Regions from separate parts of the Homo sapiens genome. Here region 1 is linked to region 2. The links come from fine-mapping of genetic effects on gene expression. A gene starts in region 2. The other region holds a variant in brackets. All regions are shown on one strand. Distances are from middle to middle. Region 1 has its middle 7.2 kb from the start of ADGRE2. Region 2 holds the start of ZNF333 (zinc finger protein 333).

Region 1 (5,376 bases), 96 kb after region 2:
CACACCACCACGCCAGGCTAATTTTTTTGTATTTTTAGTAGAGACGGGCATGAGTCACTGCGCCCAGCCAAAATGATGGTTGTTTAACGTAACGCCATGTAATGCAGGCATGTGGTGTTTTGCGGTTATATTCACATGTGATTTTATCAGGGACCAAAGCAAAAACAAAGAGAATTCTGAAAAGAGTTTGTATCAAGGAAGATAAAATCGGCCAGGCAGAGTGGCTCATGCCTGTGATCTCAGCACTTTTGGAGGCCGAGGCGGGAGGATCCCTTGAGCCCAGGGGATCGAGACCAGCCTGGGCAACATGGTAAAACTCCATCTCTACCAAAAAATGCAAAAATTAGCCAGGAGTGATGGCATGTGCCTGGAATCCCAGCTACTCACGGGGCTGAGGTGGGAGGATCTCTTGAGCCCAGGAGTTCAAGGTTGCAGTGAGCTCTCGCCACTGTACTCCAGCCTGGGCCACAGAGTGAGACTCTGTCTCAGAAAATAAGTAAGTAAAATAAAGCTGATCATGGATAGACCGATGGTCCCAAGAATTACATTGTTTCATGAATTATATAAACCTGAGGCTCTATACAAATATTTAAAAAAGAATTTTAAAATGTGTAAAGGTTTTAAGGAGAAGCGATTAGAGGAAGCAAAGGAGAGAGTAGGGTGGGGGAGGGGAACAGCTCAGGGGTGGCTGTGGGGGTGGGGAACTGGTGGCAGCCAACAAGAAGCCCTGAGCTGGGAACGCTGTGTGACATTTGGTGGCATTTTTATCACCTTCTTGCAGCTCTCAGTGTCTTCCCCATTTTGCAAAATCTTCTGAGCAGGGTGGTGCCGATGTCCCGATAAGGATGGGGTCAGGCTTCTGGGGGGCACTGTGAGGATGGGGGTCTCAGAATCCTTCCCTTGACTTTCGATGGGTGGGGAAGGCCAGGGGAGGAAGGGGGCTTATTCAGGCTGGGTGCCCACCCGGGTCAACCCCTCCGCATGCCTCTGGGCCTCTTCTGTTGTGGGCTTGTGGGTTCCCGAGAATTAGGGCCATGGATGGCACTGACGGTCCCAGCCAGTACCAGAAAGAAACGATGGGAAAGCATTGATGAGAATCAACCCATCCCCAGGGCTCTGTCCCTCGGATGGAGGTCTCCCTTTCACTTCTTTCCAGGCATAGAAAACAGTTTGCGGCTCCTCAAAAAGTTACTTGCAGAGTGACCCTGTGATCCAGCCATTCTGCTCCTGGGTATACACCTGAGAAAACTGAAGGCAGACACTCAAACGGATACTTATGTTTATTTTTAAATTTAATTTAATTTAATTTTTTTGAGATGGAGTCTCTCTCTGTCACCCAGGCTGGAGTGCAGTGGCGTGATCTTGGCTCACTGCAACCTCCACCTCCTGAGTTCAAGCTACTCTCCTGCCTCGCCTCCCGAGTAGCCGAGATTACAGGTGTGTGCCACCACCCCTGGCTATTTTTGTGTGTGTGTGTGTGTGTATTTTTAGTAAAGACAGGGTTTCACCATGTTGGTCAGGCTGGTCTCAAACTCTTAATCTCAGGTGATTCCCTTGCCTCGGCATCCCAAAGTGCTGGGATTACAGGCGTGAAGCACCGCACCTGGCCTCATATAGTTACTTTTTGTGTATGGTTATGACGTAGGGTCTAAGTTCTTTCATTATTATTATTATTTTTTGCATGTGTATATCCTATTCTTGGGAAAATTTAAAGGGGATTATTTCTGTTTCTGGTAACGCGCGCGTTCATCCTGTGCTCCCCTGCCTGTAATTCTCCCACTAGGGTCAGAGTAGGGCTGGAAAAGCGAAAACCATAACTAGAAGAGACTTCCCCAACAGGATGTTGCCCAACCCTGGCAGGGCTGACGTCCAGCCTCCAGGGTCCTTACCGGCAGTGCAGTCACAGCTGTGACTAAACCCAGCCACCCACAGCCTGACGCCCCCACACCCTTGACCTTCCCTTTAGCTTCGGGCTTGAGCAGGCCTTTGATACTCAAATAGAGAAAGGAGACAGCAAGACCCCTGTGCCTTCTCAGAGGGGGCACCCCCTTCCCCGATGCCTTCACGGGTCCTGCCTCTCCGGGACCCAGCTTCCCTCCTGGCCACCCCACCACCTCCCCAGCCACACCTCATTTCCACCCATCTAGAGAGGGTGAAACACAAACACTCCTGGCAGCCCTGCCCGAGTGTGTCCTGGGACATGGTGGGGTGGGGGCTCCCCGACTCCTGGGAAGGGGAAGTCTGGGGTGGCCTGTCCTCCCAGCTCCTCGCCCCACTGGTTCCTCTCCCCATGAGTCATGGGAAAAAGCAACAAAACCAACCGCAGGGAGATATAATATCTCTTCCTGTATCTGTGACAGCTGTCTTGTTGGTCTGGCCGTCTGTTCTTCCTGTGAGCATCTGAATCCGTTCAGACCAAGCTCTTCCTCTCCTTGAGCACCCTCTATGGCTCCCACCTTACCCAGTAAAATCCAGTCTTCCCCAAGGCCCACAAGGCTTGGCTGTGTGATTTGCCCTGTCACCTCCAGCTCTCTTCCCCTCATTCACTTGGCTCCAGCCACAGCACCTTCCTCACTATTCCCCAAACAAATATACCAGGCCCAGTCCAGCCTCAGGGC[C/T]TTTGCATGTGCTGTTTTCGCCACCTGGAATACCTTTCCCTCAGAATTTTTTTTTATCTTTTAATTATTTTGTTTTTTGAGACAGAGTCTTGCTCTGTCACCCAGGCTGGAGTGCAGTGACACGATCTCGGTTCAACCTCTGCCCCCGCCCCCTGCCTCCCCGTTTTCAAGCAATTCTCCTGCCTCAGCCCCCTGAGTAGCTGGGATTACAGGCGCCTGCCACCACGCCTGGCTAATTTTTGTATTTTTAGTAGAGAGGGGGTTTCACCATGTTGGCCAGGCTGGTCCCGAACTGCTGATCTCAGGTGATCCACCCGCCTCGGCCTCCCAAAGTGCTGGAATTACAGGCGTGACCACTGTGCCTGGCCGAGACACTGCACCTGGCCTCTTCTTACTTTTAGAGACAGGGTCTTGCTCTGTTGCCCAGGCTGGAGTGTGGTGTTGCCTTCATGGCTCACTGCAGCCTCCACCTCCTGGGCTCAAGTGATCCTCCTGCCTCAGCCTCCTGAGTGGCTGGGGTTACAGGCCCGAGCCAGGCCTGTTCTGTTTCTTCTCTGTACTCGAAACCTACAGCAATGCTCTAGGTTTGCTCAATACACACAGTAGCTGCTCAATAAATGTGCATAAATAATACATGAACGATGAGTTCTAGCTGGGAAATGACAACTGGGAAAAGTGGGATGTGGAGGATAATTTAAGAGATGAGAGCTGTTTCCGAAACTCCTGGGGGGCCTGAGGCGCCCGGATCGGGGAGAAACGGGGGCGACCATCCACTTCCCCGGCAGTCGCACGCACCTCCCCTTGGCGGCCCACAGATGGCGCTGGCTCCACGCGCTGCAGCGGCGGGAAGCCGGAGGTGGGAAAACCCAAGCTTTAGCCCCCTCCCCTGTCTGGCTGCTGGGGTCAGTTCCTGGCCCGGATTAGGATGCCAAGCCCGGGCACCCTGCTTGGGGTCCCACCTCCTGGTAGACGGGCTTTTTGGTCAAATGAGGGGAATCTGAGAAGAGTGGGGGTGGTCCACTCTGTGGTCCTCCCTCTGTCCACGCATGCTCTGATTTCCCCATTCCTAAAACTAGTTCAGCAGCTCCATGCCTGGGGGAGGGGTGAACGCACTTAACCATGTTCGTGTTCTGCCTTAACTTTATATAGGTTAGAGCTGGGCGCAGCGCTTGGTGTCAGTGGGTCCTGGGTGCACATTTGTGGAACAGTGAATGGGTGAATCCCTGTTTTACAGATGGGGAAACTGAGGCTCAGGAAGGCGATGCGGCTCACCCAGGTTCATAGAGCCAGAAAATGGCAAGGCTGGGATCGGAGACACCAGGCCTGCGTGAGTCCAGAGTCAGCTCGTTTTTTTTTTTTGATTGTTTGTTTGCTTGGTTTTTTTTTTTTTTTTTTTTTTTGAGACAGGGTCTCTGTCACCCAAGCTGGAGTGCAGTGGCAGGATCTTGGCTCACTGCAACTTCCGCCTCCTGGGTTCAAGCGATCTCCTGCCTCAGACTCCTGAGTAGCGGGGATTGCAAGCGCGTGCCACCATGCCCAGCTAATTTTTTGCATTTTTGGTAGAGACAGGGTTTTACCATGTTGGCCAGGCTGGTCTCGAACTCCTGACCTCAAGTGATCTGCCTGCCTCGGCCTCTCATAGTGCTGTTGCCCAACCTCAAAAAACGAAAACGGGAAGTTTTTGTCAACAGGAGCGTGGGAACCGGAAATCCTTGCTTCCGATACCGGAAGTCAGAGACCACACATTTGCAGGGAGCGAAATTGAGGTCCCAGTGCGGGGGCCTGCAGAAATCCAGGAATAGGACTCAGGGATCTAGGGCTGGGATGTTGGTGGTTCTGAGCGCCCAGGAAATAGGAGTTCTATGAGAGTAAGTATGAGAAATTGGAAGAATGCAGAGCTTGGAAAGGAATTGGAGGGAGTCAGAGAATGAGGGAGACTACTGTGAGCTGGGAGGGACCAGCCAGAGTGGCGCCAGTGTCCCGTGGTTCAGGAGTTTTGATAAGAGAATGCAATAAACTAGAATTGCACTAGAGTTAAAAAAAATTAATTATAGTTTATTTTTTTGAGACAGAGTCTCTCTCTGTCGCCAGGCTGAAGTGCAGTGGCAGGATCTTGGCTCACTGCAACCTCGGCCTCCCAGGTTCAAGCGACTCTCCTGCCTCAGCCTCCTGAGTAGCTGGGCCTACAGGCGCGTGCCACCATGCACAGCTAATTTTTGTATTTTTAGTAGAGACGGGGTTTCACCATGTTTGCCAGGATGGTCTGGATCTCTTGATCTCGTGATCCGCCTGCCTTGACCTCCCAAAGTGTTGGGATTACAGGTGTGAGCCACTGCGCCTGGCCCAATTATAGTTATTTTAAATTCCCTATTAGTTTATTTCTAAGTCTGGTTTCTGCTGATTTCTCTGTGGTTTGTGTTTTCTTGCTTTTGCTTGTGCTTCATAATGTTTTTCGAGACGGAGTCTCACTCTGTGCCCAGGCTGGAGTGCAGTGGTGTGATCTTGGCTCATTGCAACCTCCACTTCCTGGGTTCAAGCAATTTTCCTGCCTCAGCCTTCCAAGTAGCTGCGACTACAGGTGCACATCATCACGCCGTCTAATTTTTTGGATTTTTAGTAGAGACAGGGTTTCGCCATGTTGGCCAGGCTGGTCTTGAACTCCTGACAGGTGATCTGCCTGCCTCGGCCTCCCAAAGTGCTGGGATTACAGGTGTAAACCACCGTGGCTGGCCCGTGTTTCATAATTTTTGATTGAATG
Region 2 (5,376 bases):
CAGACCAAATACTGGATGTTCTCACTTCTTTTTTTTTGAAACGGAGTCTAGCTCTATTGCCCAGGCTGGATTGCAATGGTGCGATCTCGGCTCACTGCAACATCTGCTTCCCAGGTTCAAGTGATTCTCCTGCATCACCCTCCCGGGTAGCTGGGATTACAGGCGCCTGCCATCATGCCCGGCTAATTTTTGTATTTTTAATAGAGACGGGGTTTCACCATGTTGGCCAGGCTGGTCTTGAACTCCTGACCTCAGGTGATCCACCTGCCTCAGCCTCCCAAAGTGCTGGGATTACAGGCGTGAGCCACCATGCTTGGCCACTGACTCCTTTCTTACTCCTGGCTTTGTTGAGTTATAGTTGACAAATAAAAATTGTATATATTTAAGGTGTACAACTTGATGTTTTGATATACATACAGTGAAATAATGAAGCAATTAGCACATCCATCGCCTCACATATTTGCTTTTTTTTTTTTGGTGGTAAGAACACGTAAGACCTACCCTCTTAGCACATTTCAAGTACATAATATGTTCCTGTTAACTACAGTCACCATGCTGTACATTAGATCTCCAAAACTTATTTATCTGAAATAACTGAACCTTTGTACATTTTGTTTTTTAAATGATACATTTCTTTTATTTTTATTTTTAGAGACAGTGTCTTGCTATGTGGCCCAGGCTGGTCATCTGGAACTCCTGGACTCAAGCGATCCTCCTGCCTTGGCCTCCCAAAGTGTGCTGTGATTACATGCATGAGCCACCCCGCCCGGCCCAACTTCTTTGTAAGAACATTTAGCTTAAAACACAGATAAATTGTACTGCATAAAGGTATTTTCTTTCTTTATATCCTTATTCTATAAGCTATTTTTCATTTTTTTTTTTGAGATGGAGTTTTGCTCTTGTTGCACAGGCTGGAGTGCAATGGCAAGACCTTGGGTCACTGCACCCTCCACCTCCTGGGTTCAAGCAATTCTCCTGCCTCAGCCTCCCGAATAGCTGGGATTACAGGCGCATGCCACCATGCCCAGCTAATTTTTGTATTACTAGTAGAGACTGGGGGTTTCATCATGTTGGCCAGGCTGGTCTCGAACTCCTGACCTCAAGTGATCCACCAGCGTCGGCCTCCAAAGTCTTGGGATTGCAGGCGTAAGCCACCGCGCCCGGTCTTTTCATATTTTTAAAACCTTTTTAAATGTGAGTAATGTGTTGCACTGCAACATTGTGACAGTTACAACATCACTAGGTGATAAGAAATTTTCAGCTCCATTATAACCTTATGGGATCACAACTGTGTATGTGTTTCGTGGTTGACCAAAACCTTGTTATGTGGTGCATGACTGCACATGTGCTTGATATATAAAGAATACCAGGGAACTAGTGACAGTGGTTGTTTCAGGGGAGGAAAATTTAGGAATAGAGTGAGCCTCCCGTTTGAACTTTTCCCATAGGTATGTACTATGTATACTACATAATAAATAGTTTTTAAAAAGTCAGATCTATGTCTTAGATTCACACATCTTATTTTTAGTGAGAAGGGCAAGCTGTAGAAGAAACAAAAATACATCGTCCTATTTTTAGAATAAAGACAGTTAGTTGACCCGTGAACACCAAGGGTTTGAACTGTGGCTATCCCCTTATAGGTAGATTTTTTTCTACCTTTGTCCTCCTTGGGACAGCAAGACAAACCCCTCCCTTTCCTCAGCCTACTCAGGGTGAAGCTGACGATGAAGACGTTTATTTATGATCTTTACGATCACTTCCACGTAACGAAGAGTAAATATATTTTCTCTTCTTCATGATTTTCTTAATAACACTTTCTTTTCTCTGAGCTTAGTTTATTTTAAGAATATGGCATATAATATACAAAATATGTGTTAACTAACTTTATGTTATTGGTAAAGCTTCTGGTTAACAGTAGTCTATTAGTAGGTAGGTTTTGGGGGAGTCAAAAGAAGTGAATTTTCCACTGCACAGGGTGGCGCCCCAACTCCCGTTGCCTAAGGGTCAGCCGTATAAAAATATACAAAAACAATCTTAAGTATGGGTATATTTTTGTAGGGGATTGGATTAAGCCCATGGATAAAGGTGGAAGGGGTTGGGGAAAAGGAAGGAGAAAAGGGTAAGTTAAATATTGAGCATCCCTAAAGAGACCCGGGGAGGGGTCGGGTGTGCCCCTCTCAACCCTTGAAGCCCAGGTCCCCTCATCCCGCCTTCCGAATGCAAGTTCAGCTCCCATTCCCACCCCAAGCACAAGCCCCGCCCCATTTTTGCCCCTGAGGCGCACGACCCGCCCCTACTACCACCCTGCAAACCAAGGCCCCGCCCACTCCGCCATTGGGGTGCAAGCCCCGCCCATCAGCCATCGGAGGGCAAGCCACACTCCACCCCGCCCCCGCGCACAGGCCCCGCCCCACTTTTGCCCCGGGACCTAAGCCCCACCCCTATCCCTGTCTCTCGGACATAGGCTCCGCCCCCAGCACCACCCTCCATGCTCTGTGGGACCCCACTCCAGAGCCTAACCTCATCCCCCGGGTAAGAATACTAGAATTTCTCCTTGGAGGCTAAAGAAGACGTTAGTTTCTCTGCCGCCGCCTAAGGCTACCCTGGCCACAACAGCCTGAGCCACAGCCACTTCCGTTCCCGGCGGCCCCGAGACCGGAAGCGGAAGTGCGCGCGGCGGCGGCCGACGGCGGCTGAGCTGTGCTGCGCGGCGCGGCGCGGTGCGGCACGGCACGGTGGGAGTGTCTCCGGCTGGCTTGCAGGTGTGGCCCGGCCCCTCGGGAGGGCGGGGAGGGCGGGGAGGGCTCGGCTGGCGCGGGGAGGGACTGGAGGGCCTAGAACAGCTCCGCCTGTGTGAGGGGTTTCCTCCCTGCGATCAGCCGGTGGCCGGCGTGAGGCCCACACAGTCAGGGCCTCGCATCTGGGCGCCCGCCGCCCGGTCTCTCGCTCTCAGGTACCCCCCGTCCGGGCAGACAGGGCTGTCATCCTGTCAAAAGGGAAATCCCAAACAGTCCAGGTCCCACAGCTCAGAAATGTGGTGACACCGGCCCCAGCTCTCACCTGTCCTTCCCAATTTTTAGGGAAAGTGCATAAAGACGGCCCTACCTTGCCTACAGTATGCAAGATAACTGCGAATTAGTAATTCACGTTTTATTTGATATGATACTTAATATTATCTAGCTTTGCAACTGGAAAGTGAGGTCTGGGTCCACATGTGCAAACTGGTTTAATTGATTGGCCAAATTTACTTAAAAAATTGAATGCATCCTCCATTAAGGAATGAATTAGATGACGAGAGATTTCTTTTGGAGACTGACAATTTGAAGTCTTTTAGCTTAATATCTGTTAGCTTGGCTTTGCATCTCTTCCTTTTCCATAACTTTTTCTTTCTTCTTTTTTTTCTTTCTCATAAGAAAGCTTTTGGCCAGGCTTGGTGGCTCACTCCTATAATCCCAGCACTTTGGGAGGCCGAGGCGGGTGGATCACCTGAGGTCAGGAGTTTGAGACCAGCCTGGCCAACATGGTGAAACCCTGTCTTTACTAAAAATACACAAATTAGCCGAGCGTAGTGGTGGGCGCCTGTAATCCCAACTACTCGGGAGGCTGAGGCAGGAGAATCGCTTGAACCCCAGAGGCGGAGGTTGCAGTGAGCTGAGATTGTGCCACTGCACTCCAGCCTGGGTGACAGAGCAAGACTCCATCTCAAAAACAAAAACAACAACAAAAGGAGGAGTTCTTAATTTTTTTTGTTTTTGTTTTTCTTTATTTTCTATGTTTGAGACGACTTTTACTTCTGCTGTGGGCATCAAGTTTCTCACTGTTAGGTTAAGAAAAGCCGTTTCTCAGTTATTTCACAAATATTATTATCAAGAAAACCTAAGACTGTTATTCAGATCTTTTCAAGTTGGCTCCAGTCCTTCCCCCAAGCATGTGAATCACAGAGCTTCAAAACTAATGGAACTTCAGGGAAAAGACGATATAAACTTTGTTAATACTGGAAATTCAAATTGAGTTGGCCATAAGTGGGATGTCTTTTTTAATAATGGGGTTAAAGCTCGTGTCTACTGAGAAATCAGGAAAAAATTAACTCCAGAGGAAAATCATGCATCAGATTTCAGTTTTACGAGTGAGGTGTTTGTTTCCACAAAGAATATATGCGCTTGCCTTGCCTTTTTAAAAAGAATTAATATTGTTTCTTAAAGGTACCTGAAACTTGTGTGATTATGTCTTATGAAAGACAGGCACTTTAAGTTATTCTTATATTTGATTTTTATGGTGTCATATTGTCTTTTTTTTTTTTTTTTTTGAGACAGAGTCTCACTTCATCACCCAGGCTGGAGTGCAGTGGCACAATCTCGGCTCACTGCAGCTTCTGCCTCCTGGGTTCAAGCAATTCTCGTGCCTCAGCTTCCCAGGCAGCTGTGATTATAGGCGCCCGCCACCATGCCCGGCTAATTTTTGTATTTTTAGTAGAGACGGGGTTTCACCATGTTGGCCAGGCTGGTCTGGAACTCCTGACCTCAGGTGATCCACCCGCCTCGGCCTCCCAAAGTGCTGGGATTATAGGCGTGAGCAACCATACCTGGCCTCATACTGTGTTTTGTGTGTGCGTGGGCATATTCCTTCTTAGGCTAGCTATACTGAGTCATTCTTGAGGAGTGTTGATTATTTGGCATATTTTCACTGGGGTGCCCTCAATGAATTGGACCCTGTACATGGGGAAACAGTGGGACTGAAATAGTTACAGTGCTTGCCCCTGTGGAGGCTTTATTCTAGCTAATAATATTGGTAAATTAATAGTGCCAAAGGCAATATGAGAACGTGGAACAGGAGAACTTGGGGAGGATGTCAGGAAACACATCTGAAAAGGAACAAATGTTTGAACCTTCAAGATGAGTTGTACGTAGCTAAACAAGGGGTCTAGCTGTGGAGTGGGGTAGCGGAGGAAACTTGAGAGAACATTCCAGATGTACAGTCTTTCAGGCAGTACGAAGCCTGCTGTGTTCCAGGAGCTGAGAACAGGTAGAGAAAGCTAAAGTAGAGAAAATAAAGTACTGAATGGATGAGCCAGGTGAGAGAGGGAGGCAGGTCCCTGAAGATCATGGTTAGCATTGGATCTTCTTTTTATTTATTTTTTTTCTTTCAGACAGAGTCTTGCTCTGTCACCCAGGCTGGAGTGCAGTGTGGGATCTGGGCTCACTGCAGCCTCCACCTCCCGGGTTCCAGCGATTTTCTGGCCTCAGCTTCCTGAGTAGCTGGGATTACAGGTGTGTGCCACCATGCCCAGCTAATTTTTGTATTTTAAGTAGAGATGGGGTTTCACCATGTTGGCCAGGCTGGTCTTGAACTCCTGACCCCAAGTGATCCACCTGCCTC

Evidence for each region. PIP is the estimated chance that this variant, and not a neighbour inherited with it, causes the effect. A credible set is the group of variants that fine-mapping cannot tell apart.
Region 1: its variant is the best candidate, but not a certain one, in a credible set for the expression of ZNF333 in whole blood (TOPMed, PIP 0.69).

The regions. Positions count from the first base shown.
Region 1 is chr19:14,783,039-14,788,414 of GRCh38, forward strand. No RefSeq gene overlaps it. Among named protein-coding and RNA genes, the nearest start is that of ADGRE2, 7.2 kb to the left of the region's middle. RefSeq lists a cis regulatory region at 3,265-3,716 and an enhancer at 3,481-3,980. The variant C/T (reference allele first, on the strand shown) is at 2,619.
Region 2 is chr19:14,687,389-14,692,764 of GRCh38, forward strand. ZNF333 (zinc finger protein 333) reads left to right here and starts at 2,660. Exons shown (of 12, transcript NM_032433.4): 1 at 2,660-2,762. RefSeq lists silencers at 2,254-2,303, 2,634-3,003.